Regions from separate parts of the Homo sapiens genome. Here region 2 is linked to region 1. Evidence: fine-mapped expression QTL. A gene starts in region 1. The other region holds a variant in brackets. All regions are shown on one strand. Distances are between the middles of the regions.

The links. PIP is the estimated chance that this variant, and not a neighbour inherited with it, causes the effect.
Region 2: its variant is fine-mapped to the expression of EOMES in lymphoblastoid cells (GEUVADIS, PIP 0.95).

The regions. Positions count from the first base shown.
Region 1 is chr3:27,715,101-27,731,473 of GRCh38, reverse strand. It overlaps EOMES (eomesodermin), which reads left to right and starts at 9,151. Exons shown (of 6, transcript NM_001278182.2): 1 at 9,151-10,060; 2 at 11,149-11,303; 3 at 11,993-12,114; 4 at 12,581-12,739; 5 at 12,826-12,887; 6 at 13,666-15,521. The coding sequence starts at 9,180. The coding sequence ends at 14,404. RefSeq lists enhancers at 457-1,388, 1,389-2,318, 2,319-3,250, 6,096-6,970 and a silencer at 9,516-9,725.
Region 2 is chr3:28,074,345-28,090,717 of GRCh38, reverse strand. LOC105377008 (a long non-coding RNA gene) reads left to right here. Exons shown (of 3, transcript XR_940674.3): 3 at 1-1,501. Among named protein-coding and RNA genes, the nearest start is that of LINC01967, 54 kb to the right of the region's middle. RefSeq lists a silencer at 8,815-8,864. The variant A/G (reference allele first, on the strand shown) is at 9,629.

The DNA of each region.
Region 1 (16,373 bases):
ATCTAGCAGATCGCTCCCTGGCCCAAGAGCTTCTGATCACAGGGCAGGGTATCAGTGCTTGTTTACCTGCTTTGGGGGTCTCAGAGGACAAACAATGAAGGAGTCTCAGTGAAAGGGAAACTCTCACAGCGGGGTTCCGCACACGCAGCGCAAGGGGACGCTGCGTCTTCTGCGGCGCAAATCTTTCGACCCTCTGCGCTCTGCCGGGGGGTGCGGGACAGCCGGCTGCTGACCGGGGAAAGGACTGCAGCTTGTGGGCGCAAGCAGCTGCAAGGAAAGGCCTCAAAGCATCAATATAATTTTTAAGCTATTTCCCGCCAGTTGTGAGCCCGGGATGTCAAGCTAGCAAAAACTCCGACGTCTCCAAGGAACTAACTTAAAGATATATTATAAGTGAAAAAAGCAAGGTGGTTAATAAAGTGTATAAAAGCGTGCAGATGGGTGGGGGACAGATAAAGAGAAATTCAGGTGCGCTTACGTACTTGCTGGTGCAAACATAACATTATAGCCCCAGAAATACACAGGAGAAACTAATAGTGATTGCCTTCACTTCGAGGAATTGGGAGGCGCAAGAGTTGGTAATCTGGTGGCTTTTGGGTTGCTGGGTATTTTTTTTTTAACTCATGCAAGTACGTTAAGTATATATTGATTTTATATTATATAATATATACTACATATAATGTATTGTTGATATATTCATACATGTATGTAAGTGTTATCAGTTGTTGCAGTCAAGATGTCTAAATTAACCTCTGCCCTGGACGATGACCTAAGGGTACGGAGAAACAGAGAAGACTCTCGGCGTCAAGGACCAAAGAGGGAGGGTGAGAGGAAATATGTGGGATCCCCTACCCCCGTATCTTTTCCCAGAAGCCAATCTGGAATGGATGTGTATTTGTAGGGGGCGGTGATAAGATAAACTGGGGCGCTCGAATACCTGAGTGCCATCCAGACTGCATTTGGAGATCTAAGCCGCCAAAGGCTGGGAGGTGGGGAGGAGGACAAAGGAGGGGGTGGGATTGCGAAACCATCGCCCTTATCCTTCTCTGCGTCGTAAGCGCCAGGAACCCAGCCCCTAAGGGAGCCTTCCCTGACTGCAGCGCCTGACGCCTGGGTTTGAGCCCCTACGTGGACTTTTTTTTTTCTTTTTCCCGGGCTGCGCGTACCAGGGCGTGGGTGGGAGCGATAGTGCATCACCGGGGGAGCATTCGCCACTCGCTCAGAGCCCTAAAAGACTCCTCTGAGGCGGAGTTGGCTGTCGTGCTGGCAAGTGCGCAGTCCCAGAGAGGAGTGTTTCGGGATTAGGGTGTCCGCCGAGGTCCCGCGCTCAGAGGAGGGAGAGACCAGAGGAGCCTTCTCGCTTCCCAGCCCTTGCTCAATTGGAAGGCTTCAAACGTCTAGGGGGAGGCGAGAAGCGCTCCTAAAGTCCAAAAACCCTAGCTTTAGAGCGCGCTTTCATGCAGGAGGCAGGGGCACCGCAAACCCCAGCGAGGAGTAGGAGAAAAGGAAATTTATCTGGAAGGGGATGAGGGAGAGAACTGGCTGTTGCTTTGCCGCGCCTCTCTCTTCGGGACCGAGGGATCAGTTTTCTGTTAAAAGTTTCAGAGTTCCAGGCAGAAGGTACCGCCTTCTCCATCTTCTAGGTCCTCCTGGACTTAAGGTTCACAAGTTGTGTAACCTCAGGCAAGTTATTTTATCTCTCTGAGCCTGGATTTTCTTAACTGTAAAGCGAAGATGCTGAAAGCACCTACCTTCAAGAGGTGGGAGTGAGAGCCTAAATGGGATGATGTATGCCAAGGGCTTGGCCCAGCCCCAGCACTTAGAGAGTGGACAACCCATGTCATGATTATGCCAAGCAAGGATGACCGATTCTACCGCAAAGTTGGGATTTGCAACCGAGTCATGGAGCCCGGTTTTCTCCAGAGACTCATTCTGAAGGTCCACCGGCTGTAGATGGGTACTGAATGCCGTTCACTGGCTTGCTCCGAAGACTCACAGGGTCCCCGTTCCATAGCCTACATCTGTCCCCCCCAAAGAAAACAATGACCCAGCCCTGCCACCATTCACACGTACTTAATCCCCCCACTAGGAGCCCCGCAGCCCAGACCGCTCGAATTCACATCCCCAGGCTACCATTTTCAGCTGGGTGCTTTGAGCCAGGGTCTTCGCCTCTCTAAGCATCACTTTACTCTTCTGTAAAATGGGATTATAACAGTTTAGGGTGCTTTTTCTTTTAAAAGATTATACAAGTAAAGCAGAGCAAAGTCAGCTGCTGCTTTTCTTATTCTCCTCTTTTGTGAATTTGCAGATAAACTCTGTTCTTGAAAAGTCAGCCCTAAGTGGTGGAAAAATGATCCTAGCTGCTCTTTGTTGCCCCTTGGATACGCCTTTACTATGGCTCCTTGATATTCTGTGGGGGGAGGGAGTTCCAGGGACCGTCCCGGCCCCTACCGAGTGATTAAGCAGCCCAGGCCGGCTTGGCCTTCGGGGCCTCCTCCGGACTTCCCTCGACAGCCGCTCTCTGCGGTAGATCTTGCTCTGCACTTGCTCTGTCCCCTTAATTTGCAGATGCCGCCACTGAGGCCCGCAGGGACCCACAGCGAGTGGATCCAGATGGCCTCTTTTTCTGGACATCCAGTTAAGGGTGCCTTCTCCTGGAGCGAGAACCCTGCGGGAGGCTTCCGACTACTCACTTAACTCCTTCGTGGTCAGGCGTTTAACCAAGTAGGTGGAGAACAAAAGCTGAGCTAAATACCCTATTTTCTTTCTTTGACAAGTAATCGGCCGGAACGGCAAAATCCCAGCGGGTGGCGGGAGATACTGGAGGCCTTGGGAAAAACAGAATGCTAATGGCCGCCTGGAGGGGGCGGAAGGCACAGCCTGGTTAGGGCGCCCCAGCCGCCTCGCTTTGAAGTGCACCTCTCCAGCCGAGCTCACCGGGAGGGCACTTGATTTCCCCTTTCGGGGAAATAAAGAAGAGCTGCTAGAGTAACTGGGGACTCTCTTTGGTTCTGACTGACTCCCTCCTGCTTCCTACCCCTGGTTCACGTTGCTTTTGACCTGTTTGCTCCTGGCCTCCCCCATCGGACTGGGAATCCCCGGGAGGAAAAAGACTAAGGTTTATTCATCCTCATTTAGCTCCAGTATCTTAGTAAGAACGGTAAAAAGTAAGCTCAGTCTAAGTGTAATGGCGAGTAGTAGGAAAGACTTCCTATGTAGGTGCCAGGTACTGTTCTAATTGCTTCATATTAATTATGCTGTTATACAAGTGGGGAAATTGAGGCACACAGAAGTTAAAGAGCTTTCCCAGACTCACAAAGATAGTAAAGGTTACAGCCACAAATACATACAATTCTGATACAAGGTTCTGTTTTCTCTTAGAAGTCTGGAAAGGGAGACCTTTAAGGAATGACTGCGACGGTTTTCTATCCTGTTGTCTGTCCTTCCTTTCTCCTTCCCTCTCACTGTTTCTTACTTGGTTATGTTATGGGCTTACTTATTTCTGCCCCCAACCCAAACTTCCTCTCCCTACTTTTCTCACATAGGGTCTGGATTGGGGAATTCCAGCTACCCCTGTCATATTGAAGCCTTGGTCAACAGGATTTGGGTTCTGCCCACCTGTTGTGTAGACATCTTGCTGCACCTGTATCATAGGTGTGCCTTCTGTTGAAACATTAATTTTCATAGACTCTGTCAACTCTGTTAGTAAAGTACAATTGATTTACATTCAGATTAACATTTCTCCTTGGTGACATGGTGTTTGCTTCCCTTAGCAGCTGTACTACAATTCCAGCACTAACTTCTTTTTTTCTATTTTGCTATGGAAGAAGCTTAGCATGGACATACAGACAAAGGCCATGCCACAATGTAAGAACCTTGAGATAGAAAAGGTCTTAAAAATGATATATTTTAAAGTCTGAAAAAGATGAAAATATCATGTCTTTTAATTTAGAAAGATCTTTGTTTTCTTTTTCTCTTAGGAAAAAACTTTAGTCCTTGTGGTTATAAAGCCTAAGACCTGACACTGTCCCTGACCTCTGTTAGCTGTTCCAGCACACAGGTTTAGTAAATCTTTTCATTTAATTGATAAGCACCTACTGTGCTCCAGGCTTTTCAGGGTAGAAAAATGAGCAAGATAGATGGAGCCCCGTATAACTTTCGTATATAGTGTAGCAACAATTAGCCAAACGTTCCCAAAATACACTTTCTTGAGAGTGTTTTACTTTCTTTGCCTAATGTGGCTTTTCTTGTTATTATATATTCCCATATACATGATGAGGAAGAAGAAAAAGATGATGATAATGATGATGATAAAACAGCAGCTAAATACAGAAATTCATTAGCAGTTTAAAAATTACTTTCATAAAAAAGGTAAGTCATGATTTTGTGCTGTTGCCAAAGACTCTTGATTCAATCTTTAGGAGAAGATAATTTATCTTTTGTAATAAGCAACTATTAGTGTGTTTATTTATTAACTTCCATTTCAGGATTCCTTCACCTCCTCATATTTTAACAGTGAACCACAAAGTGCATTAGCAATGTAGATATATAGACTTAAAGCAAAGATAATAGTTTAAATTGGTCATTTTTGTTGAAAAAAATACCATGGGTTTAATATAACACTTCACGTCACACATGTGTAGCTCTGGTTTGGGGTTTTTTTGTTTTGTTTTGTTTTTGTTTTTTTGTAAAGCAAGTGGTCAGTGTATTTCAGTGTCATGGTGAAATATAAATTCTAAAAATTCTTATAAAAGTGAAACTTTTGGTGGGAGTATCTTGCTCTTGTCAGCAGAATCAACACTGCTTGTCTTTGCCAAGATGTTTTATCTTACGGGACATTTGCTTAAAAAAAAATGAAACATGAACAACCTAACGGTGATTAAAGCTCCCTCCCTCTTTGGAAAGCACAGCAGAGGTGGCAGATCTGGCCATCAGAGAACAAAGGGCCAAAGAGTGAACCTGAGTTGGTGAAATAAAATGTAACATCAACAAAGAAAGGGCCATAGATAAATAGTAAAAGGACCAACTCACCACAAAAAACCCATTGACGCTTTCCCAGAGTCCAGGCGAAGCGCTGGTGACCGGTTAATGTTGGAATGTTTTCCTAGGGTTAAAAGGAGAACCGGCAGCAAGTCTGCTCAGAATTTACAAAGTGTTTGAATAACATGGACAGTGTTTTGATAACACGTTTTTAGTGGGGGTGAAAATAATAGTATTTATTGGGACATTTATATGGGCCCCCTTGGTTGTGGGGGGTGGGTGGCACATGGGGAGAGGTAAACCTTATATCATTGCACTCATCTATAACTCACCTCTGTAACATACCCATATGTGTGTAAATGTATTTCTTATATAATAATCCTGTTCCAACCAAATGCTTCTCAGTTTTGCTTTTAAAAGATCAATGCATGGCTAGTGGTTACCTTTAAGGGGGAGAAAGAGATAAAGAGGTCATCTGGTCAAGTTGGCAATAACTTTGACCAAGACAGTGGTATGAAGTTGGTATTATTCCTCAGAACAATAGAGCGTGAGATCTTTAATGTGTTCACACACAGACTTGGCCTTGGCTTCCTGGTAGCCTTTAAAGATTCCTGCTTGCTCCATCTCAGGCTGAAAGGTACAAGATTTGAGTTAATCCAGCAGGTATTTGGGTCTGGGGTTTCAAGGGGTTTCCATGTTTCCTCCCCAGTGTTGATGTTTTTGTTCAATGTATTCCAATACACTGTCAGTTGAGCCACATAAAACCAGGCACCTTTCAATAAATGTCTCATTTGGATTTCATGAAGCTTGGGGTGTAATTGAAATCAAACAGCAAACAGGCTGGAAGGCTCTGTTATTTGCCCACCCAGTCTAAGGAGGGTGCTGCCTGACATGTTCACTTAAGCCACTGCTTTGGCTTTCTTTTCTATTCCTACTTCTGGAAAGGAGTGCCTGGATTTTAAAGTGTGGCTGGGACACGTGAAAATATTTTTTATGTCTCTTCCCCTGGCTATAATATTGAGCCAGCAAAAGGAAAGCCCATTTCAAGCAGGAAATCACAGACTTGCTCATCTATAACTCTCCAGGCATTCTAGACTAGTATATTCTAAATGTAATAATAATAATAATAATGTGATTAGCTAATTAACACAGAGGAACCATTAAATGAGATTTTTTATCTTCAGCCAGAAAAAAAAAGATCTGTAGCTGAAACAGTGCTTTTCATTATTTTAAAGAGAATTTGTAACATATACTTACAAATGTAATGTAATACAATATGTAATATAATATTATGTACATATTTTCCATGTTCCAAAAATCCTGGGTCCTAGAGTAGTTTTATAGAAACTGAATTTTTATTCTCTTTGAATTTGTCTTTGCTCCTCCATATGTAAAATGTGTTGAAGTTTGGGAAAAATAATAGATTTACTGGGGAAGTGGGTAGATATCAACCAAAATTTCCTGTCCCCAAGAATCAATACAAATTCTAATTATATACATCGTGTGTATATTTAATAATTAGGTGGTGCTCATACTGAACTCATGCGCTTTCAAAAGCTTGCTCTGGGGCTGGAATAAAATCAACGCTTTCTGATGTGGCTCGGGGGACAGCTGGCCCGCGTTATTCGCGCCAGAGTGGGTCGGAACGATGCCTGTTGCCTGCGATGGCACTTTGCCACGCGAAGCGCTTCCCTGGCTGCGTCAAAAGCATTTTGAAGGGACGCCGAGGCCCGCTTCTTGCTTTGTTAAAGCGCAAAACTGTCATGTACCTTTGGCCACCCTAGCTCCAAATAACGTGAGATTAGGTCTCACATTAGGGAGATTTCTCATCCCTACTTTTGCCTTAGATATCTTGCAACTCAGGTAAAGGATAATGTGGAGGATCCTACGAATAGTAATCAGGACCCGCTAGCCCAGGGATAGATACGTCGTCCAAGCCGCCCAAGCTGCACGGCCTCTTTCTTTCCTTGAGCTCGCGTACCCCTCACGGGATCTTCACGTTGACAGTCATGAGGTATTCACAGAGCTATACTACTTGAACAATCAATGTTCTAGACTTCCTTGGGTCAAAATAACACTAAAGCAGGGGAGGAAGGCATGGACAATGTAGTGATCAAAACAGCCGTGCCAAACACTAACTATACTGATGACACAAAACGCAGGAAGCGCAGGGCAGAACGCGCTCAGTACCAGCTTTCTGGCGATCTGCTCCTGGCCACTCTGTCCCAGGACCTACAAGGCCACCGCCCCAGCCCACTAGTCTCAACTTGCCCCCTCCCCTGTGGCTGTGCCTTGACCCTGAAAATCTTCGCGCACTCCTGGGTTTCACCACCACACACACGCGAGCGCGCGAGCGCGCGAACACACACATCAAAAAAGAAAAAAAAAACCGTGATAAATGCCCTGGAGAGTCTAAGTGCATTAAGGACCTCGTTCTCGGAGACCCCAGACATGCCGATGTTGGTGCTGCTGTGGTTGGAAAACTGGGTTGGAAAGCTTCGCACTGTTCTACACTTGCGTGTGCGCACTCAGCAATCCTTTGGCCATCTCATCTGTTGTGGGCGAAGAGTTTCCCGTGTGATCGCGTTCGGTTGGGGAAGCAGAGTCCCGACATCTCAGCCGGAAAATGCGCTCCCGGAGCGATTACTGGCGGCGTCTGTAATTGCTTATTAACAGCGAATATTCAGGCTTCTCCTTATCCGCAACGAAACGTGCCCCCCGCTTCCGTAATAATGAAACGATAAAATATGACGGCCCCGCTCTTGAATCTATCTGAGGAAACGCAGCGAAGAAACAAGCAGCTGGAGTTTAATTCAATATCAAACTGATTATTTCACTAATTATTCTACCTTCTGTATTTGCCGCAGAGCAGAGGCGCAGGGAATCCTAACTGTGGGGCTGTTAGGGAAGCTTTGTTTCTTGGTGTCAGGCCTAACTGAAGATGGTGGTGAAGGGACGGAATCCGGGATCAGGAAAACTGAGCAGAAAGGATTTTAAATTGTGGGGAATAAAAGTGACTGTCTCCCCGAAAGCAGTTGTGTTGGCGTGAGTATGAAGTTGGTGTTAGCTCGCTTAGTTTCACTCTTGTCCTGTCCCCAGTACCCTGTCCAAGCTTCTGATTTAGAAGCTGAGAGCTTAGGTCCTCCAGGATGGCAATGTGCTCTGGCCGTCCCCGGAATCCCAAAAGCTTAGCGCGAGTTTCCTCTCTACAAACCTTTCCCACTGGGTAAAAGGATGGGAACAAACAAAAAGTGGTTCTGTGCGTTGAAGGCCAGGGAGTTTGCCTTCGACAAGAGGAAGGTGTGCTTTGAAGTTACAGCTTCCGACGAGGAAAGAGACTTCCTTGGGCCTGTCTCCAACTTGCCCCAGTTTCCCCAGCCTCCGGGACGGGCGCTTCCCTGCAAGCTATCAGCTTGAAGAGTCTTTCTCTCTCTGGCCTCTAAAATCTGCTCCAGCCATCTCATTCCTCCAGCGGAGGGCTGAGATGACTAATGCGCCAAGGGTGGACACCGCTATGGAGACCCCAAACTTTGTCCCCCTAAATTCCGGCGAAATTACAGACACCAGGATTGATTATCACAGCGGGACGCAGTCTCAAAAAAAAAAAAAAAAAAAAAAAAAAAAAAAGGAAAAGAAAGTCACAGGCGACTTGATCCAATTAGTAAATGCCTAATTGAATTAGTGTCACCTCCACCAGCCAATAGGAGGGTCTCCGGGCTGTGAGGCCGGGAAGCCCCTCCCTGGCCGCAAATATATAAAGCAGCTAGTGACAGCCCATAAGTTTCCAAGTGGTCAACTTGACCGATGCTTTGGCAATTGAAAAAGGGCAGAAAGGCGCGGGCTAGTGGGTGGATGGGGACAAAGATCTAAGTCACCTTCTTCCAGCGTGTGAGCCTGGGAGGAGGGTGGGGGTCCTGAGGAGCAAGAGGTACGAGGAAGGAAAAGGAGAGGGCTTCTGGGTTAGTTTCCACCTCCTGCTTTCCAACTCACGGCGCTTTCCTTCCGGAAAGGACGCTGGATTCAGGGCGCGCCAGTACGCGCAGTAGCGGCCCGCGAGTCGGCAGGTGGGTAGCCCCGGCGCGGGAGGAAGGGGAAGTTACCTTCCCCTCGGAAGAGGGCGCTGGCTCCCCCATCCTGCCTTTATAATAAGGCCACCGGAGGAGAGGAAGCAGCCAGCTGCCGTCTGCGCTTTGCAAAGCATGCAGTTAGGGGAGCAGCTCTTGGTGAGCTCAGTGAACCTGCCTGGCGCGCACTTCTACCCGCTGGAGAGTGCGCGAGGCGGCAGCGGCGGGAGCGCTGGCCACCTCCCCAGCGCGGCCCCCTCTCCTCAGAAGTTGGACTTAGACAAAGCGTCCAAGAAGTTTTCCGGCAGTCTCTCCTGCGAGGCGGTGAGCGGGGAGCCCGCAGCCGCCAGCGCAGGGGCCCCCGCGGCCATGCTTAGTGACACCGACGCCGGGGACGCATTTGCCAGCGCTGCGGCAGTGGCCAAGCCGGGGCCCCCGGACGGCCGCAAGGGCTCCCCCTGCGGGGAGGAGGAGCTGCCCTCCGCCGCTGCAGCCGCCGCCGCCGCCGCCGCCGCGGCTGCGGCCACTGCGCGCTACTCCATGGACAGCCTGAGCTCCGAGCGGTACTACCTCCAGTCCCCCGGTCCTCAGGGGTCGGAGCTGGCTGCGCCCTGCTCACTCTTCCCGTACCAGGCGGCGGCTGGGGCGCCCCACGGACCTGTGTACCCGGCTCCTAACGGGGCGCGCTACCCCTACGGCTCCATGCTGCCCCCCGGCGGCTTCCCCGCGGCTGTGTGCCCACCCGGGAGGGCGCAGTTCGGCCCAGGAGCCGGTGCGGGCAGTGGCGCGGGCGGTAGCAGCGGCGGGGGCGGCGGCCCGGGCACCTATCAGTACAGCCAGGGGGCTCCGCTCTACGGGCCGTACCCTGGAGCCGCAGCGGCGGGATCTTGCGGAGGACTGGGGGGCCTGGGGGTTCCAGGTTCTGGCTTCCGTGCCCACGTCTACCTGTGCAACCGGCCTCTGTGGCTCAAATTCCACCGCCACCAAACTGAGATGATCATTACGAAACAGGGCAGGTGAGCGCAGCGTGGAGGGGCCCCTGGGTTCGGGGATAAAGGGTGACGTGTGGTCCTGGGGAAGGTCCGGGATGAGGGAGCTGAACCCAGTTGTTCCGCGCGGTGCTTAGAGTGTTTCACCGCGCGCAATAAATCTCCGTAGACACCGCATCTCCAATGCGGTGTCCCTCTGTGTCAGTGCCCCGGCGGCTCTTGCAGGGTGCCAATGTTACGGCTGTACACCGCTTTTCCCTCCCATCATCCTCACCTGAACAGACCTGGAGGAGGCGGAAATGGAAATTAGGGCATGTCCACAAGCTGGATTCGTTAGATCCTCCTGCTCGGCGGTATGCTTGTGCATGCCTGCATGCCGGCAAGGAGCCACGGATAGGGAAGGCTCAAGAGCTGGCCACCTGAGCGCAGTAGATGGGCTCCCGCAGTTTTAGGCGCCAGGGTCTCCACGGGGCGTCTCCGGGAGGTGGGCATGAAGGCTAGAGCGCCGGCCTCGGAAGCTCGGTCGGAGTAGGTGGTTAGATCTGCCCTGGAGCCAGACCTGGCTCGGGTTCGGTGCGCGAGAAAGTTCTGATATACATCCAACTGCTAACACTGGCTACTTCTGGGGAAAGGGAGGGGTGGGTGCTGAGAGAGGGGCACTCAAAGGGGACTTTTAGCCTAAAGTTTTAATATATATTTTTAACAAGAATAACCTAATATTGTTCTCTGGTACTTTTCAAAATGGTGCATTTAAAAATTAGTAGTTTTTAACATTCTAGGAGAAAAATTTTAAGAGCGTCTGAAAGGGCCGAGAATATGAGCCTTCGGAAGCACGCGCGAATTTGGAATATACCGATGTTGGGGCAAGCTTTTTTTTTTTTTTTTTTTTTTTTTTTTTTTTTTTTTTTTGAAAAGACGGAAAGGTTCCAAGAGTTGCCAACTCAAAAATATTTTACATAGTTTCAGACCACTTGATCTACCAGCATTCTGTTCACTGCAAACTTTTAAATGTGTTCCGACCCTATCCCAGGTGTCTGGGGAACCCGCTGGGGCCTGGGCCTGTTCTAGGACATCCCAATTAAAATCGATTTTTCTGATTCTATTCCCTTGCACAGGCGCATGTTTCCTTTCTTGAGCTTCAACATAAACGGACTCAATCCCACTGCCCACTACAATGTGTTCGTAGAGGTGGTGCTGGCGGACCCCAACCACTGGCGCTTCCAGGGGGGCAAATGGGTGACCTGTGGCAAAGCCGACAATAACATGCAGGGTGAGCAGAGAAGAGGCTCGGGCCGGGGAGGAACGGGCGGGAAGAAATCGTAACCCTCGACTCACACAACTCACATTTAAATGTAGCACTTTTTTTTTCCCCTTCCATTCTGAGGCCTAGAGGTGTTAGTATGAGTGTCTTTGAGTTGCTTGTTTGACGGAGAGGAGAGTTTGCTAAGTCAGATTTCTTGTCTGCCAATATGTAGATATTTAGAACCTTTAACTAAGACATCACCCCACCCCCCAATCCCTACGTTTAACAAATCAGTAGTCATAAGCTCTCCAGGTGGGAAGGGCTCCTGGGATTCTAATGTTCACTTGAGAAAGCCCAGCCAAAGTTTAGTTCACCCATAAATATCCAACTGTCTTCCATCGGATGTTGCCCTTACAGCTTTAGAAGGCCCCAAATTGACCTTCAAGAGTCATCTCTTGTTAGCTCCGTTTCTAAATTCTGAAATGCCATTCAGGGGAGTCCCTAGTGCAAGGAAGGTTGGAAGCACAGGGGCCTGGGAGGGATATGGATGTAGTCCTGCTGGTCTCCACTGGCCTCTTTAAGCAACTTTTACTGGGAGACCAACTGTAAGTCTAGCTCTTATATCTTGCTCATAGCTAAGAGACATCCCTCCGCTTTCTCCATTTGTAAACAGCCCTATATGCTTGGGTTTTGTGTTTTGTTTCATTTTCTCTTAGGCAACAAAATGTATGTTCACCCAGAGTCTCCTAATACTGGTTCCCACTGGATGAGACAGGAGATTTCATTCGGGAAATTAAAACTCACCAATAACAAAGGCGCAAATAACAACAACACCCAGGTAGAGTGACAGAGCAGGAGGGGATATCTTCTGGCTTTGACTATAAGGCTTTTTTCTAATAAGAGTCCCTACTCTTTTCACTGTATTTATAATATTTGCATTTGTGACCTGTTTGCTCGCCTATTTCTAACCATTTTTGTTCTTTTGACCTTTCTCATCTTCACTTTCTTATTGGATTTCGATAACAGTGAGTTGACTATTAAGAACAGAAATAGCGAAGTATTTTGGGAATTTAGGAAACCAAGAGGAAAGCATATCTATCACAACCACATACCCAGCTATGATTTAAATTTCAAAAAAAAAGGGGGGGGGCAATAATGAGACCTTTAAACTTGCAATAAACAAAGCTGTTAGTGAGGAGCATTTAGAAGTCCAATACCAAAATACATAATTTGTCAAAATCTAATTTTGTTGAACCACTAAGAGGCTTTTTAGATTTAGCAATTTTTTTCTGTACTCTTTCCAGATGATAGTCTTACAATCCTTACACAAATACCAACCCCGACTGCATATTGTTGAAGTTACAGAGGATGGCGTGGAGGACTTGAATGAGCCCTCAAAGACCCAGACTTTTACCTTCTCAGAAACGCAATTCATTGCAGTGACTGCCTACCAAAACACCGATGTGAGTGTCCCAGACATCTCAAGAATCTCTAAAGCTAAGGTCCAGCATGATAAATCACTCAATGACTGTTTTTCTCCCCTATCTAGATTACTCAACTAAAGATTGATCATAACCCCTTTGCAAAAGGCTTCAGAGACAACTATGATTCGTAAGTGCAGCTTTTATCCACACTTGCCTGATCATCTCTGAGCAGGACATACATCAACAGGCACTTTGCTGATAATGTATTTTAGGAAGAGCTTTTACCTTTGGGATTTTTACATATTTTTCTTTTTCCAAAATTTTTTCCTTTACTAATCTTGCTTTAGATTTTTCTCAGAAAGGTTGTGTTAATTTCTGAAGAAATGTTAAGGACTTAAAAATGAAGAGGTTTTTTTAGCATTTGAGTGAAGATTTGAAATTTTAAGAATCTGCATTTATATATACCTTTCTTTTCATTTGATCCATTTTTTTATCCTCCCAAGAGCAGATATTATTACTCTCCCCCACCCCCACTTTTTTTTTTAACATAAGAAAAAACTGAAACTAAGAGGATGTAATTTCACAACACGAAATAGCAAGGCCCTGCTCTTTTTAAAATCTGAGTTTTCTACCGCCACAGCCAGTGTTTTTTCCATCACATTGACAAAGGAGGTTTGATCTGAGTTTTTCGTGTTCTAGGACTAGTAAAGGTAGATTTTCTATAGTTTAAATACTTGATGCCTAGGAGGAAACTTTTTCTTGCATGGTGGGAAATTTTTCCCAATAAGCCAAGAGTCCAGCTAAAATGGGCCAGTGCATCTCCTGCCTCTGTTCTTTCAGCCCAACAGACCAGCACTTTCGGTGTAGATAACCAACACAAGCCTTTTTCATTTCTGGGAGGTGGTTTGTTTGGGGACAACATTAGGGTTTTTTTTTTTTTTTAAGTGTTTCTCTTTATATTGTAGCATGTACACCGCTTCAGAAAATGACAGGTTAACTCCATCTCCCACGGATTCTCCTAGATCCCATCAGATTGTCCCTGGAGGTCGGTACGGCGTTCAATCCTTCTTCCCGGAGCCCTTTGTCAACACTTTACCTCAAGCCCGCTATTATAATGGCGAGAGAACCGTGCCACAGACCAACGGCCTCCTTTCACCCCAACAGAGCGAAGAGGTGGCCAACCCTCCCCAGCGGTGGCTTGTCACGCCTGTCCAGCAACCTGGGACCAACAAACTAGACATCAGTTCCTATGAATCTGAATATACTTCTAGCACATTGCTCCCATATGGCATTAAATCCTTGCCCCTTCAGACATCCCATGCCCTGGGGTATTACCCAGACCCAACCTTTCCTGCAATGGCAGGGTGGGGAGGTCGAGGTTCTTACCAGAGGAAGATGGCAGCTGGACTACCATGGACCTCCAGAACAAGCCCCACTGTGTTCTCTGAAGATCAGCTCTCCAAGGAGAAAGTGAAAGAGGAAATTGGCTCTTCTTGGATAGAGACACCCCCTTCCATCAAATCTCTAGATTCCAATGATTCAGGAGTATACACCAGTGCTTGTAAGCGAAGGCGGCTGTCTCCTAGCAACTCCAGTAATGAAAATTCACCCTCCATAAAGTGTGAGGACATTAATGCTGAAGAGTATAGTAAAGACACCTCAAAAGGCATGGGAGGGTATTATGCTTTTTACACAACTCCCTAAAGAGTTATTTTAACCTCAAAAATTAGCTAACTTTTTGCAGATGGACTTGGTGGTGTTTTTTGTTGTCTTCTTTGCCTAGGTTGCCAAAAAGATGTTTGCCTTCCACCTTGATGCATCCTGTTTTGTGCAATTCTCTAAAAGAAGGTGCCAAAGCTTTTTGATTGCTGCAGGTAACTGAAACAAACCTAGCATTTTTAAAAAATAAGATTAATGGAAGACTTTAAGGTATTTTAAAATTCGAAGGGTATCCAAGGTTCTGTATTTATTTATTGGGGAGACACTAACCCTTCAAAGAAGCAGGCTGTGAACATTGGGTGCCCAGTGCTATCAGATGAGTTAAAACCTTTGATTCTCATTTCTATTTGTAAATTCTTAAGCAAATAGAAGCCGAGTGTTAAGGTGTTTTGCTTCTGAAAGAGGGCTGTGCCTTCCGTTTCAGAAGGAGACATTTTGCTGTTACATTCTGCCAGGGGCAAAAGATACTAGGCCCAGGAGTCAAGAAAAGCTTTTGTGAAAGTGATAGTTTCACCTGACTTTGATTCCTTAACCCCCGGCTTTTGGAACAAGCCATGTTTGCCCTAGTCCAGGATTGCCTCACTTGAGACTTGCTAGGCCTCTGCTGTGTGCTGGGGTGGCCAGTGGGACTCAGGAGAGAGCAAGCTAAGGAGTCACCAAAAAAAAAAAAAAAAAAAAGGGAGAATTTAAAAGTGTACAGTTGTGTGTTTAGATACACTATAGAATAATGTGGTATATATTGTACAAATAGTCTACATAGGTGTCTGGGATAATGTAAAACTGGTGCTTTGGCTTTGTAAAGAATTTGCAAATCACTTAACAGCTGCAGGGGCAAGGGGAGAGTTTCATCATCCCCATGATATTTGGGAATATTCTGTTTACTTCTTAGATAGTTAAGAATGTATTCAGCTACTATGTACTAACTTGAACCGTGTTTAAGGAAAACTCCTATTTCATCCTCTTCTTGCGCCATCCCCTCTCCCTAACTTGGTAATGTGAAGAAACTAAAACCTGATACCACAGCTCCTATAGGCATTTTAGAGATCTTGGATTTTTATGTACAGTCTTAGTCATTTTTAATAAATGTGGTTCAGTAAGGGAACGGACATAGCTCTGTCTTCTGTGCTGTTGGGGTTTTCATCTTTGCTTTAAAGATCTCATTTTGCTTCCTCCTGTATCGTTTTCAGCTTTAACAGTGCCTCACCCATCCCCTACCTCCACGGAAGGCTCTAGAATCTCTAACTGGATACTGTAGTCATGCGGGGGTGGGGATGTTTTGTTTATCTTCTTTTTTCCTTGAAGTGGAATGGGGCTATTTCCTTACCCCACTGGGAAGTCTGGACAATGGGTGTTGGCGGGGCGGGGGAGGGGGGCGGGGGAACGGGGGAGGGAAGATTGCTGCCGATTGCCCACATCAGACTTAACCAAGCCTCGAAAACCTCCGCTTCTGGCTCTTGGAGACCAGGCTCTGTCAGAGCGCCTGGCCACTAAGTTCTCTGGGCTTTTTTCTAGGCTTACTTGGGGCCACCCATCCTTAGGCCCACCTAGGCTCCCTGGGAACCCCCGTGGCCCTTTGAGCGCCCACCAGTTCAGGGTCCCTGGGGCGCGGCGGAGCGGGGGGCTGCACACAGCTCAGCTTCTGCGCCCACCTGCGGCTTTCTTCTGAACCCAGACGCTGCGCACCCGCCGCCGCCGGCTGCCGGCCTCAGTAGCTGCAGTCAAACTCCGCCCGGACTCGGTCTGAGGCGCAGGCTAGGGACGGGCGTGGCACTTACAAAGGAGGATTCCAGTCGTTCCGTGCACTGCCGCTCTGCAAACAGTGACCTTGGAGCAGTTCACCTTGCGCTTAGTTCCGTTTATTTGGCCCACGCTCCACGGGAAGACGAAGGACAGCCCATCCCCTGGCTGAACCCTGGGAGGTCCAAAGAGTGGGGTGGAGGGTCCCCTTTGTCCC
Region 2 (16,373 bases), 360 kb before region 1:
TGATTGTCTCCGTCCTTTTGGGCTTCTATAACTAAAATACCTTAGACTGGGTAATTTATAAACAACAGGAATTTATTTCTCACAGTTCTGGGGGCTGGAAAGTCCAAGATCAAGGCTGTGGTGGGGTTTGGCTGGCGAGGGCTCCATCCTTCTTGCTATATCTTCACATGGTGGAAGGAGCAAACAAACTCCCCCAGCCCTCTTTTACAAGGGCACTAATATTATTTGTGAGGGCTCCACTCTCATGACTTAATCACCTCCCCAAAGACCCTACTTCTTAATACTAACACATTGGGGATTAATCTTCAACATATGAATTTTGGAGGAACACAAACATTCAGACCATAGCAATGTTTATTGGGGTGAATGCTCATTTAACTTTTCCCAGAACAATCCCTGTTAAGTCTGCTAACCTCCTGTAGTTAATGATAAAATTTCCTTCATTTTCCGAAGTGTTCTTGTTTGGATTATAAATTATGTAATTACCCTAATGACAATTAACTAGACATTTTTTTTCTTACTGTATAGCACCAGTATGGGCAATTGCAGTGGCTTTCAAACTTGACTACAACTCAGGGAGAAATACATTTTTCATCATAACGTAGTACACACACACACACACACACACACACACACACACGCACACACACACACACATACACTAGATAAAGCAAAAGCTTTAGGAAATGGTACTTGGATATTTTCAAATATATTTTAGTCTGTTTTTTAATTAAAAATCTCTAGTCATGATACATTAAATTGACTTATTGACCCACAGCTTGAAAAAACACCAATATTTTGGATGTGTTTTAAGGTCATAGAACACGCCTTCTGATTTTTTTCCTTCCCTAGGTAATCCTATGCAAGTTGCCAATCTTCTCTAAACAACACTCTTCTTCATCTATAAAGTAAATATTAATACCTACCTGAAGGTGGCAGAGAGAGTTAACTGAGATAATTTGGTTAATGAGCCTGAAATCTAGTCAACACTTACTAAAGGTAATTTCTTCTCCTCTCTTCCGCTTCTAAACCAACAGGACACAGCTGAAGTTCACAGGTTTGTAAAAGTGAAAAAATATTTTTCTTAACCCCCTGACCTCTAAAGTTTGGTCAGAGTGTTTAGCCACTGATAAAACATCTTTAAGCACTGTTACTTCTATGTTCAACTAAAAGAGTCACTTTTCAGTAATTTCCGGTCAAGCCCATCACAATAGCACTTGCAGCTTCTCAAAAGAAAAGAAAGAAAGAGAGAGAAAGAAAGGAAGAAAGAGAATTGAAGGAGGAAAGAAGGAAAAAAATCATGATGAAGATTTTAAAACATGTCTTATTGAGGGATGGGATGGTGAGGAAGTTGATTATAGTGATGGATGTGACAGACAGGGCCCGTACTTCTGTTTCTGTTCTCAAACTAACAGTTTTCACACATAACCGTTTTCACACATAACACATTAGTAGAATTTCTTTTGAATATTTGCCTTGGAAATAAAACAATAATAATATAGCATTTATTATATTTATTATATATAGAGTGTGTGTGTGTGTGTGTCTGTGTGTGTGTGTATCCCACATGTCCACATGAGAAATAATGAAAGAAGATGGAGCCCAAGTAAGAGAGTCCTGATGCCCCATAATGCAGAGAGACAAAGAAGTGATGAAATCAAGTACTCTACCTCTGGGCCGCCAGAATCCAGGCCTGGTTCCAGAGTCCTCTGGTTTTCACCGTGTTGGGGTGGGGCCTCCCCGGGTGCACAGCTTTTCTGCACTGGTTGGCATCTACTGAACCTTAGGTGATCACAGCAGTGGTAAAGACAAGCCAGCTTCCGTCTTTCCATAGTTTGTTCCCCTGTACTTCAGGAGGGAGGGGAGCCCCTCTATGGAATGCAATACACACTAGGCATCCTATCACTATGTAAGAACTCATCTTGCTCCCTCATTTCACATTACATCTTTGACTGTCTTGCTCAGTTGTTTCACCTTGGCTAGTTTTTACTCTTTGGCGAGTACTCTCACAACTCTCTTGTAGGCAGGAGCCCATTTTCTTTTTCTGAGTACTCTGGACTCCTTGCATGGTGCTTCCTGGGCAAGGGGTGCTCAACAAATTGTGCTGATAATTAAGTCATTCACTCAAAATATATTTATTAAGCACCTAGTGACCAAGACAGAAAAAAGTTACTATTGACCTTCAAATCACCAAATCTAATGATCATTCCTTACTGCTCATCTTCCTCCACCATTGCTACCTTAGAGGCCTCCCGTGCCTGCCTCCATTTCCCAGACTTACTGCTTGATTCTCCCTGGCAAGCTTTCCCTTCACCATTTTTTTTTCAGCACTTGTAAGGAACTGAATCTGTCCCCAATAGTACACAGTTTGAGTTAGAGCCAGGACTAGAACTCAGGCCTGCATATAATCAAAGATCAGAAAACGGCCAAATCTTGGTGTTTCTATTCACAGGGAGGAAACCCAGATGGGCCTACTCACAATACATGCTTCCAAATGAAAGAACGTTTTTCCCCCTAAGGACATTGTTAGGACACTGTCTAGCTAGAAGATATTCAGAGAAAATTCACTCCTTTACCTGCCCTAGGGAAATGGGAAAATTCAATGTTTGAGCCATTTACCCAAAAGAGTAATCCATGCTGGAAATTTTGCTGAAAGTATTCTTTTAAAAGGCCCTTCTGTCTTTATTATGACGATAAGACTGCTGAGTCTGCCCAAGCATATGAGGTTGCAAAGAATATTTCTTTTTATTCAGACCTTGTATTCTCTACATGATGAAAGGATTCTTGGCACATAGTTGGCAATTACTATCTAGGTTTTCTGCATAACATAGGTTTTTTAAACTAAGCTTTTAACTCAATAGACATCAGGCTCCAATGAAAATACATGTGGCCTAACACGAGCAGAAATAAACACAATTCTAATCAACTTAACTGTTGACAAAAGCATGTGGTTTCATTGCTTGCGGCCAAAGTTGTAAGAGTGGACTCTGATTTCTTGCAGGAACACCCCTCATTTATGTGTGCAAATAGGGTAATTAAGTGTCCAATTACCAGATTTGCATTGGCAAATGGGGGCTTTGTGTGGGTAAAATTCTCCATGGTTTGGGACCAGCTGAAACTTAGGTCTTTTCTTTTTGGATCAATCCCCCAACAATAACACGGGCATGATGAAGTTCCCTTCTTGTCCTGATCTGAAGCCATGGCTGAAGACTTCCCTTATTTTGGTAATTCAGTGAAGCGGAGAGCCAAAGTTAGGATCTGGGGCCTTTTCTTCCTTACTGTCTACTCTGAAAAATAATTAAGCATTTCAAGTATTTTCAGACTGACTTTTTTTTTTTCCTGCTGGCTCTGTAGAATTGATTACTAAGGTGAAATACTTGTAAATATTCCTTTTAAAAATTTAACCATATGGAAGCATTAAGTTGAAAGACACTTCATAAAACAACTTTATTCTTTTCTCCCCCAGCTCTCGGGTGAAATCTAAGATGGGTCCAATGACTTTCTCAAGTTTCAGATAAAAAGTTTCTGGATACTTTTAGTCATGAAGCCAATCTTCTTACAGTAATGAAGACATCCTTTCTGGGATATCCCGTCCTTTCTGGGATGTCTAGTCAAGGTGGAGTAAACATATTCCACTCTGTCTCTCTCTATGAAGGAAGTTAAAACCCTGGATGGAATGTATGTAGCATTTCTCTGAGGAGCCTGTAAAGTAAGTAGCAGCAGGTAGATTAACGAAAGAAACCAGAACCTGAAGTACTACTGAACCACTTTTCCCCTCTGGCATCTCCTGCTGCAGGACCGAGACAGCTGGAAAACAGGAACTATACATCAGGTACAGACAAAATGAACTCCAAGAAAACCCACTTAATTTTAGTCTAAAGAAGGAGAAAGGGGGCCTCATGGGATCAAAGAGAATTTATGTTTTCTACTGTTCTATCTCCCAGGAAATTCTATGGCAGTGGTGGTGACAATTGCAGTGGTGGCTGGTCAGGTATCCAAAACTCCAAGAAAGGAGAGTCCTTATGTATGACCAGAGAAACTGAAAGAAGTTCCTGCTGCTTTTTTCCCCTCTCTCTATCCTCTTGCCGCTCGGCGTTGGAGGCAGAAAGAGCTGGCCCCTTACTCTGGCCCATGATAGCCTTCAGTTTGCTGAGGGCTTGTATGTTTTTGCTCACTTGTTTTTCTACAATATTCTTCGGCTACAACGACCACCACATAAACTCTTGTTCACATATTTTATGTCCAGGACAAAGCTCCTATCCTTGATCAAACCTCTTCTTTCCGGAAATGGCTCTACCTACCTCTGTTATAATCATCTCGTCATTATCGCTTTTGCTCATAGGCTGTCACCTTCATTTGTGGATTCATTCCCACCCTTCAGTGGCTGTTTCAGTGCTTTCAACAAATATCTGAAGGAATGATCAAGTCTGTTTTCCTAGAAATAAAATATTCCAAGAAATATTTAAGGATACATTAAGATTTCAATAAAGCCTCAAAAGCACTTAAACAAAAATGAAATTATTTGAATATTTTATTATAGATACGACTGCAATACAATTTATTGCCCAAACTGGGAAATGTTTGAGAGTGAAAGGGGGAAAAGGCACTAAAATAATGAAGACATAGTATTTGATCTACAACAGGTATTAACTGGAACACATTACGGTCCTCATTGTAAACTTAATGGCAAATACCACCTTGTCTCTTGCTAGTTTCTTCACAGTTTCTTCTTCACCTACAGACCTGGATGTATACATATGTGCACAACCCCCTCTAGAAATGCACGTTTTAACTTCATGTCATATCCCAGACTAAGCCAACTAAGGAGAATAAAGATGTAGAAATTTTAATATTGCTTATAAAATTATATTTATGCAGCTTCCACCTTTCTTTCTAACTTTGTCTCTTACCTACTCTCCAAATACAATTTCTCCCAAACAGAAGAGATGAACAATTCCCTGGCACTTTGCAGTATACTGTAGCTTTTAATTGAGAAATGGAGCATTGTGGTTGAACATTCTTTTAGAATCATTCTCATAGGTTAAGATCTAGGTTTTGCTATTTACAATCCATGTAACTCCAGTTCTCTTATACTAAGTTTCCTCATCTATAAAGTGAAAACCAAAGGTAAACTCTCCAAGGGATATTGTGAGAATTTAATAAAATAATTGGCATAGAAATGTGAGATGTCCCAGGCAAAGTCATGTGTGTATTCACCCCAGTTCCCATTTTGTAAATGGCCATCTACATTACCAATTTCCACAAAATGGTATGAGAGGGAAACTGTTACATATTTAACATGAAGCCAGAAATTGTAAGGGAGGTTTAAATCTAAGAAACTTCCTTAGAGATTCTTCATCGCCTCTAAAGCAACATCCAATTCTCAGGCCGAAATATGTAACTACTGCTTGTCCGTTACCAAATTAATAGATGCTTCTTTCTAGCTCATTAGCACGTGTTGTTTAAACACCTTCTGCTCTGGAGGAGAAATACTTCTAGAATGAGGAAGAAAGAAGGAGATGGTAAAGAGCTTAATAGGTGGGTCTTAAACCGAACCCCACAAGAAAACCACTACCACCATCACAACAACAAACCAGACACCAGCTTGCTGAACCCCTGAGTGAAACTAAATTTCTTTTTCAAATCCAGAATATTTAACCAGGAGTGTGCTCTGATAATCAATTCTGATCAAACAAAAATTTATGTCTTCTGAAATTATCAAACCAGATTAAACTTGGAGGACCATCTGTTAAGACCAAGCTAATATTTTAACATCTTATTTGCTAGAGAAATCCATTTTCTTGTGTGTGCATTTGGTGTCATGAGTGGTGAAGGCCATTGAGTTAGACATTGTTAAGAGACCCACAATAGCATACTAGGTTTGGCTGAGTATCCTCCTGGCTAATTACTATGTCCTCTGAGGGAAGGAATCTCCAAATTACCAGGGAACCTGAAGCTCTTTACCTATCCACTTAGGATTCAACAGTTTCAACCCTGAAATGGTCTTTGATCAATGCACAAATCAAAAGACTAAGAGCTTTTACAGTATAACAGACATTATTTTGACTATAGGTGTTTCCATCAGCTCCTGGCTGACTTTCTCGTTGCCCTACTTCCGCTGGAAAACTAAGGTGGGTTATGTTTCCAGTTCACTTACTGAAGTCATCACTTGATTCTCTCCATAGTGGAGAAGAAGTCATCCTACAGTCTTTTGTTGCTACGATCTTTACAGAAAATTGTGAATAATATGACTATTTGAGTAATATCATGTCCTGGTTAATTATATATTTCTTAAGGTTACAAGTTAACAGAGCATTTTCTCACTCTCCACCCCCACATTAGCTCTGAAAGATTTGGTAAGGATTTATAGTTTCCTTTTCTCTGTGAAAATAGTATCTAAGTATGTGTGTTTGCATTGTTTGGCAGTTGTTTATACTCTAGTTTCTACCAAAACTAATTTATTTTGCCTTTGTAAGTATAATTTACTCCACATTTACCTCTTAACATAATCCAGCTGTAGGGGTTGAAAAACTATATCCTGTGGGCCAAATCCACCTGTTCTCATAATGTTTTTTAGGACACAAGTACAAGAATTTGCTTACTTATTGTCTACGGCTGTTTTCAATATCAGAGTAGATAGGTGTGACAGAGGCTGCATGGCTGGTGAAACAAAGAAAAAAAAATTACTACCTGGTCCTTTACAGAAAACATTTGCCAACCCCTTGTCTAGTGTAATCATTCCAAACACAGAAACTCACTGCACAGATTTATAGAAAGTAAAGTGCAGTGTACTCTGTTGAATATATTCTAAATCTATGACATATCTTAGAAGACATTAGTTTTAAGAAAATTATTATTGACAGCTGTTTTTTCATTCCTGAGGAATTCTCATTAATTAAAAAGTTCTTATGTAAAATGCAGCAAACTCCCAGTAATGCATGCTTCATAATTACAAAAATTCAAATGTTCTTATGTAAAAATCCTGCCTTCTAGTTTCATCAAAACTTAAGGATATTAAATGAGATTTAGAGTCACTGAATATATGCTCTGTATTTATTAATATATTATATATTTGGATGGGGGGGAGAAGAAGTAATGTGTTCCTGCATTTCAAAGAGCTTCTAATATTTATGAAGAGATATAATCCTAACAATGTCTTCCATAATTGAAATGTACAAAAAAATGAATAGCACAGAGAAGGCAGAATTCTGAGCTTTCACTTATTATCAGTAATTTATCATTAATTACAAACATTGGTTAAGCATTGATGCTGGCCCAAGCCCTTTGGTTTGCCTGAAATCTGATATTATACAAAGTAAGTCACGGTTTGTATTCTCAGTAAGCTTATAGCTAAAGACATAATTACTAGAAGAGAATAAAGTTAGTCTTTAGAGGAGCCATTAGCTGTCTATGGCCATACCACCCTGAATGCACCTGATCTTGTCTAAGAGTTATCTTTCAATAGCAGTGTTAAAGCATTTCTCTTGCACATCAAAGACCTGTTTTAAAAGTGGTGAAAGGGCTCAATTTGAAGGGAAAAGAGAGGGCATAATTTTATCTTTGATTTTAGACCATTGGCTGTCAAAATTTGCTGCATATTGAAATTCCTGAGTGATTCTAGTGCACAGCCAAAGCTGTGAACCACTGGTCTATAGTAATTCTTTTCGAACTTTAAAGTGCGTCAAATGACCTGAGCATCTTGTTAAAATGCAGATGCGTAAACTGTAGGTACAGGGTGGGGTCAGATGATGCTGATGCTACTGGTTCATGGAATACATTTGGAGTAACAAGAGTTGTGATTTGGAGTGTGTGTGGGTGTGTGCGTGTGTACATGACTGCAATGTGTGCATGCACGTATTCCTAATATGGCTGTTATTGTTCTCTCTAAAAATAAAACTTGTCCTCTCTCTGGGTTTCAAATACATAATGGCACACTCAACCAGAGGTGATTTTCACTCTTGATTATGGAAGATTCCTAATGAACTCCCATGCACAAGGACGCTCGCCTGCTGACTCATGCACCCTAGAACCCTACTTAGGCCATCAAGACAGTTCTCTTTGCTGTTAGCTCAGGTTTCTGCTCAGATGAGCCTGTGCTGCTGGCTCTGGAGGGGCCTCACTGATAATGGCATCTGAGGGCATTCAATTAGCACATTTCATGTTTCTCTGGTCATAGACACCTCATAATTTCTTCACTAATGCAGCTGGATCTTTTTCTTTTTCCAAATCATTAGGCATCCCTTCAATGTTACTTTCCACTTTCCAGCCTGTAGTGGATAAAGATTTTATTTTAATACTCAACACATTTGTGTGTTAGGGTAATTTAGGGAGAAACCAGGTGCTAACATATTTTAAAAGAGGAGTTTCATTTTTCTGAATTTTACTAAGACATTGATCCTGCCTCCTGTCTTTACTTGAATCAGAGTATGAATCCTTGGCATTAATAAATAGGTGTGATGAAGGCTGTGTCTGGAGATGAAAACTGAGTCTGAGAAGATAGAGAGGAGAAAAGGATGGGGACAATGAGTGAAGGGTTCTCAGACTCATGCCTGCAATGTAGGAGTAAAAACCCCTGTTTTGGGGGAAAGGTCATAGGTAATGAGTTCCTCATTTTGTCTTAAATCCTGGTCTTTTAGGAAAGAAAATCCCTGAAGCAAAGGTAAGATCTGGTAATACTTCCTCTGATGTGAGCTGGGTGAGAGGACTCCGTGTTTCAGAGCTTCTCAAACTTTACGTGAACAAGAATCCTTTGGAAGATCTTATTTAAAATGCAGATTCTGATTAGTCAGGTCCAGGTGGGGTCTGAGTTTGCGCATTTCTAACAAGCTTCCTGGTGATGTGGATGCCGCTAGTCTGAAAACCACACTTTGAGATGCAAGGCTTCATTGACATGCACCTGGGGCCCCAGTTCTCAACCTTGGCTTCTCATTAGAATCACTTGGGAAACTTTCAAAACACTAATGCTCAGGCTGAACCCTAGACCTATTATTAAACTAGAAATCTATAGTATGGGACTCACACATTAGTAATTTTGAAAGCTTTTTGAGTGACTCCCATGTGCAGCTGTCTGGGCTGAGGGAGATGTGAAGAAAGCAAGAATCAGTTCTCAAAGGTTGGTGCCAGGCCCATCAGTGTAGTATTAGTGTCATCTAGGAGACTGTCAGAAATGCAAATTCTTGGACCCCGCCCTATACCTACTTAATCAGAAATTTTAGAGCTAGGGCCCGTATATATATATGTACTCTGTGCATTCTAATACATGCAAAAGTTTGAGAACCAGTACTTTATATATTCAGCCTCTCAGACTGCTGTGATAGTAGGAATAAATACATTATAAGTATTAATATGATTCCAAGTACCCTCTGTTGAGAAGTGGCAGTAGAATCCACTTCCCAGCTATTGAATGCTTACCATTTGCTATATAAAATACCAAGCAATTGACTTACATCTCATTTAGTGGCACAACATCACTGACAGGTAAATATTAATGTTTTAACACAAATGAGGAAACAGAAGATTACAGAGGTTAGGCAATTTGCCAAAAGTCACAGAGGAGGTAAATTAGGATTCCATCCCAGGCCTTTCTGAGTACGGGTGCTATCTCCTAATCTAGGTGAGGCTTCATGGG[A/G]ACTGAAAGCAAGTGTAACTCACTCACTGTGTAACCGCTTTGAGCATGTAAGCCATGCTAGGTGTCAAGCTACTTTTATTTAGAAAGCACTCCTTATATTTATGAACTCATGAGCTAGTGGGCTTCAGAGAGGAAAACTGGTCATTACTTCACAGATAGATGCACTCTATGGCAGGTTAAATACCTTGTGCTATGAGTAAAGTGCTTTCTTGGGAATTGGAAGATGAGTGGCAGAATGGAAGAAAGATTTTCAGAGGAAATTACATGTAAAGTGATACCTAAAGGTTGTCTGTGAAGACAAGGATAGTGGAAGTTTGATGGGAGGATGTTTCAGAGACAAGAGAGACCAGCATATTCAAAAAGTTGAGAAATAAAAGAGAGTTTAGCCCTCCAGGGCTGAGGTATTACTCTGATTTATAAGAGGAAATAAATTCCTTTTGTAACTACTATAGTTTGATCAAAAACGTTAGCTGGATTTTTATTTAAAAGCTATTACTTTCTGCCAAAGCGATGAACTGCTTGTGATACTTGGTTGGTGATACACAACCAAATTATTTTGTTTTAATGCATGTCTTTAGCTGAACTGGAATGAACACTGTCATGGTTCCTGCTTGTTTGGCTGTTTGGCTTTCAGATCAAGAGGTAGAAGAAAAAGGTTCACAAATTAATGAAATAATTTTTAGGGAAAATTGCAAGTCTCAACTGTCAGAATTTAACTGTTAAAGTCATTTTGAATCAGATAATCCATGGCTGAGGTCCTGTGGCTTTGTCTGAAGCAACAGCAAATAGAGGAATTGATGTATAAATGCTGCAGCTTCCTTAACCCTTGGGTGGAATAACTCTGAACATGTGCTCTACTCTGTTACCCATGGGATTAAGGTCCACTTGCCCACAGCGGTAACTGGTCTATAATGCACCATTTATTTACTGCCTGCCTCTCTCATTTTCCCACTTTGGTGTTTTTTGCCCCTCCCAAATATACTACTTCCATTTGATTCCTTGTCTGTTTCTGGGGAACCTAAATTAGGGCAATTAGAGTACAACAAGAACTCATATGAGGTATGGGGGTCTGGCTAGGCAGGAAGAGGAAGGGGCAAGCCCTGCTTCTGTGCCCAGGGCAGTGTTAAAAGAAGAAAAGTGTGAATGATAAATGAAGGAGGTCAGATGTCAGGATTCCCATTTTCCTCACTCCTTGTCCTGCATTTAAAGTGAGAGGACAGGGCCGGGCATGGTGGCTCACGCCTGTAATCCCAGCACTTTGGGAGGCCAAGGGGGGTGGATCACCTGAGGTCAGGAGTTTGAGACAAGCCTGGCCAAAATGGTGAAACTCCATCTCTACTAAAAATATAAAAATTAGCTGGTTATGGTGATGCATGCCCATAATCCCAACTACTCAGGAGGCTGAGGCAAGAGAATCGCTTGAACCCAGGAGGCCAAGGTTGCAATGAGCAGAGATCGCATCACTGCACTCCAGCCTGGGTGACAGAGCAAGACTCCATCTCAATGAATGAATGCATGAATAAATAAATAAATAAGTAAATAAATAAATAAAGTGAGAGGACAATGGAAATATTTAGATGTTTCTAGGATACCCCCGAGACATAAAGATTAGTGGTCTACTTCCCTAGACACAGCTAAGATCTTAGGAAGGATCTCCCATTAATCTCTGCACCATGTCCTTATGGAGTGGGAAGAAAAGTACACCACTGAACGACAGAAGAACAAGAGAGATGAGAGATGAGACTGAGGAAGTGGGCTTGCTCCCCCTGGCCTGCGCCTGGCATGAAGGGCATACAGGTATTCCTACATGTCCTGATGTGGGGACACAGAATGTAAGAGACAGAAGGTGGACTGTCATACACCTTGGGATGGTCAGAGTCTGCAACATTTGAAGGCTTCATAAACAGAGTTAATAGGCCAGGATCACAGTCTCTAGTATTAGGCCAGCAGGAAGCTCCAAATAGCTGGTTAGAACCTGATTGCTCTTCAGTCTATGCAGTTGGTCAGGCCAGCCATCCCAAGGTAGGGCCTCCAGGAACCCAAGAACTAACATGAGTCTAGAGTGTTCATTCACCACTGGTGCTAAGCACATGCATTTCAGACACCATGTTCAAGAGGAGCAAGGGGAAAGAGAGGAAACCTAAAAGACTGAGTATATAGCTGAAAGACACTATACATCCAAAGGGTCTGACATTTAATGTTGTATCTCCGTTGGAAAACCATGAAGAATAAGATTTGGCCAGCTGTAAATAAAAAAGGTGAAATTTCTTTGCACATCTGAAGAACAGTATGAGAACATTTATGATGCACTATATAACAATTGGAGATAATGGGCATAAATTACCCAACCAAGCACCTGGCCCATGATAAGAACTCAGTAATTGGTGGCTGTTGTCATTAACACCATAATTGATTATCTCAGTGGCCTCTGCTGTAATGAAAATCTGGTAGTAGCTAATCTAGGGAAGCAGGAGGAATCACAAGTCTTAGTTCTATTGTCATTCTTTCAAAAAAAAGACTGAGTCCTAGAGTCCTAAGGATCAGGATTCTAAATAATAGTCTTTCAGTTAGACAAAGTCCTAGACTGGTTGATGGAAATATGTAAGTTCTGGGGCACTGGTTGATGGAAAATATACGGCAAATCTGTTCCACTTCTAAGAGTTTGATTTGAATGGCCAGCATTGAAGAACTTGTATCAAAACCTATCTATATTGAAGAGTTTGTGTTAGAATTCACTTATATTGAAGAGCTGATATTAAAATTAACTAAGCCAGCCTAAGCCTCAATCAGGACTGAACACAGAGATCATTTGCATGCTATTTCTTCCATTAATTTTAAATTCAACACCACAAGAGGCATAAAACAGAACAGCAACAACAATAGCCATAACATGCAGCTGAAAGATTTCTGTCCAGTTTCTTGCCTTCTTCTTGCTACTGACGGCAGATAAAGAAGGCATCATTTTCTTTGACATATGCAGTGTACAGTCACCTTGCCTATTAGATTCAAATAGGGCAAAAGAACACTGAGGGAGGGATGGGCTTAAGGGAAAATTTGCATATACATTTCCATTAGGGTTAAAAACATTTAAATCCACATTACCCTGGACCATAGGATAATGAATGCACCATTATGGACAAGACTTAGCGTGTGTTGCTGCTGCATTTGGCAGGTTCAAGTCTTGCTCTGGGTGTAATATTTGGTGACTCATTTTTCCTCAAGCATAGAGTAATAGGCTTTAACTTTGCTAAGCTTTTCTGCCAGCCCTTCGCCCCCTGCTGTTCCATTATATTGAACTTGTAAGCAGGACGCTCTGTCCGGCTCACCCAGATTACCACAGCAATACGGCCCCGCTGAGGGGCTGGTGTCAGGATAAGTGTCAGGGAGGGAGCTCCCCATCTTGGCATGCTGTTCTCATCTTATTAAATTCAGCTTTGTGGAAGCAGGGAGCCCGCCTCTCAGTCACACTGGCTCAAGTGTGATCCAACTGCTACTGTCAGACAATATGAAAATAGGAACCACCACAGCTAATGGCAGGTGCTGCTTCACAGCTGAAAAAAAAAAAAAAAGTCTGAGGGGTTTTTATTATTATTATGATTTTATGAGCCTGTGTGGTGTGTGCCATTTTACTCTTACAGACACTTCACTAGATTGAAGGCCTGATTCAGAAAGCCTAATACTTTGGGAAATGAAACAAGATTGCGCACTTTCAGCATATTGGAGAATCCAAGTTACAGAACTGCTTTTATTTGCATTCTTTGTTGTAGGTTCTAGTGGATCATTCTTAAATCCCTGAGAATCAAAAGTGTCCTAAAAATCCTAAATTGTGTCACTAAGATTTTTGTCTTAGTGCAACAAGGAGACAAAAGGATGAAAACATGGAACAAAATGGAAAATCTAGGTCTGGAAATAAGTTACTGTGTGAATTTGAGAGTCCCAACTTCACTCTAAATTTCTGCCTTAACATATGTTTTGGTTATATATTGCTGCAGAACAAACTACTTCAATATTTAGTGGCTTAAAACAACAACAATTTTAATATGCAATAAATCTGCATAATAAAATTATATGGCTTGTGGTTTGGCATTCTGAAGAATGTCTATTTGAATGAACGAAGTCAGCCTAAGCTCCAACACGGACTGAACTCAGAGGCCATTTTGCATACTATTTCTCCCACCACTTTTAAATAGTCTCTGTTAGATGGTTCTTCTGGTGGTCTCACTTAGGGTCTCTTTGCAGCTGTGATCAGATTGTGGATACGCTTAAACACCCAGGATTCTCCTCTCACGAATCTGATAGATACCCTGGCAAGGATGCCTAAGTCTGGGACTGTAGCTGGTAAAGGCAGAAGTTACTGATTCCTTTCTCTCTTTCAACTGGCCTCTACATGTGGTGTCTCTACATGGTCTTTCCAGCAAAGTAGCTGGATGTCTTACACCATGACTCAAAGCTACCGTCTTTCTTACAGGCTTAGGCCTTGTAACTGTCTGACTGTCTCTTCTCCTGCATCCTATCAGTTGAAGGAAGTCACAGGCCCACCAGTCCAGATTCAGTGGGCAGGAAGACTGGAAGGTATGGTTCACTAGGGGCTGTTATTAGAGACCAGATAATGTATCACATTATGTATTTTGGTCTTCAGCCAACATCTAGTGATGTTATCAATCATGCCTGATAAACTGTGTCATAAAGATAATTTATTCAGTTATTCTATAACTTTTTCAATTGAATGCAAGTTTAAGCCTCTAGGATTTGCTATCTGTGAATTGGAATTCCATCACAGTACAAAGTTCATTTTGAGATAATCTAGACTCTACTTGGTTAAGGTGTATGGTTGGAAAGAGAATGAGAAAGGAAGAATGTGGGAAGCCAAGTCACTAAGTGCTTGAGCCAGGATGAAGCCATACATATATCATTCAACAGCTTCCTTAGAAAGTAACACTGAGTCTATTAGGCATAATAATCTAGAAATCTAAAAGAGGGGCATTCTGGAAATACAGTGACCCAAATGCAGCCATTTGACTTCCTCACCAATTCCAACCTGTTAGTCCCCACTTAACTGATATGGGACAATCTTCTTTATCTGAGTGAGCATCTGGAGACCAGCTCTGTAGAACCCCAGGAAATAATTTACCTTGTGAAGGTTGGTGAACTCCAAGGAGAAGGTCCTCATTGGCCTTTCATGAGAGTACCAGGTATCCCTGGTTTCCAAGAGGCCAAGGAGTTTAACAGGAGGACAAAGTATTAAAGAGAACAAAGAGACTGGGGAGCAAAAGAGTTCCCCAATATAGCAGAGGGTAGCCTGCTACCTGGTGCTCAACTGGACAGCCATTAGGTGTTGTTAAAAAAAACGGAGATCTCTTTATTTACCCGCAATGGGAGAGCTGCCACTGATCAAACAGACCTGAGCCCCTAGAAGACTACAAAGAAACATAGCAAACCTTTTATCTTAGTCATTTTATGCTACTACAACAGAATACCCCAGACTGGGTAATTTATAAAGAAAAAAATATTTCTCACAGTCTGGAGAGGCTGGGAAGTACAAGATCAAGATGCAAGCATCTGGTGAGTGCCTTCTTGCTGCATCTGCACATGGCAGAAAGTGTTAGGGCAAGAGGGAATGGGTGCTGTGTCCTCACATGGCAGAAGAGCAGAAGAGAGTGAACCACAAGCCCTTTTTATAGCGGTGTTAATCCATTCGTGATGGTGGATTCCTGATGACCTAAATACCTCCCAAAAGGCCCAGGTTTCAACATGGTTGCACTGGGGAGAAAGTTTCTAACACTAGAACTCTGGGGGACACATTAAGATCATATCATCTTTATTTAAAAAATAATAGAATTAGTAAGAAAATTTGGTAAGTTGGCTGTATACACGATAAATATTTTAAATAATCTATACCTCTCATAGATCCTAGCCTTGAGTATCCCAACATGGGAATGGAAAACATTTCACTCATAGCAACAACAAAAACAAAAAAAGCATTTAAGAATATGTTAAGCATGACAAGATAAAGAAAACAAAAAATCTTATTGATGGACATAAAACAAGATCTGAATGTACTCTGGGGACTGTTGTGGGGTGGGGGGAGTGGGGAGGGATAGCATTAGGAGATATACCTAATGCTAAATGACGAGTTAATGGGTGCAGCACACCAGCAGGGCACATGTATACATATGTAACTAACCTGCACATTGTGCACATGTACCCTAAAATTTAAAGTATAATAATAATAAAATTAAATCTAAAAAAAAGATCTGAATGTATAGACATCCATATATTCTTCAATTGGACAATTTAAAATCACAAAAACATTTTTTCCAAAATTATTGTTTAAATTTAAATTTTCTGCAACTCTAATCAAAATCCAAATTTCTGCCTTACATTTAGATAACATTACCTGGCAATGTTTGTGAAAGAACAAATCCTTAAGAATAACCAAGATAATTATGCAAAGAGAAGGTAGTTGCCTACTACTGTAAACTGGATAAGATATCATTATGCAGACTCACTATAATTCATTAAAGCTTTTTCTGCTAATGTGTAATTCACTAAAATCAATAAACATTCTTGCATACATGTCCCTATGTACTAGTGCACATATTACTGTGGTGTACCTAGGAAGAGTATTTGCTGGATTGCCCATACATCTATGAACTCAATTGGGATAAGAAGTTGCTTTCTTGTTGCATTGTTAGCTGATGTAGAATGGGCATTATTGTACCTCTTCAATACCTCTTCGTTTCTT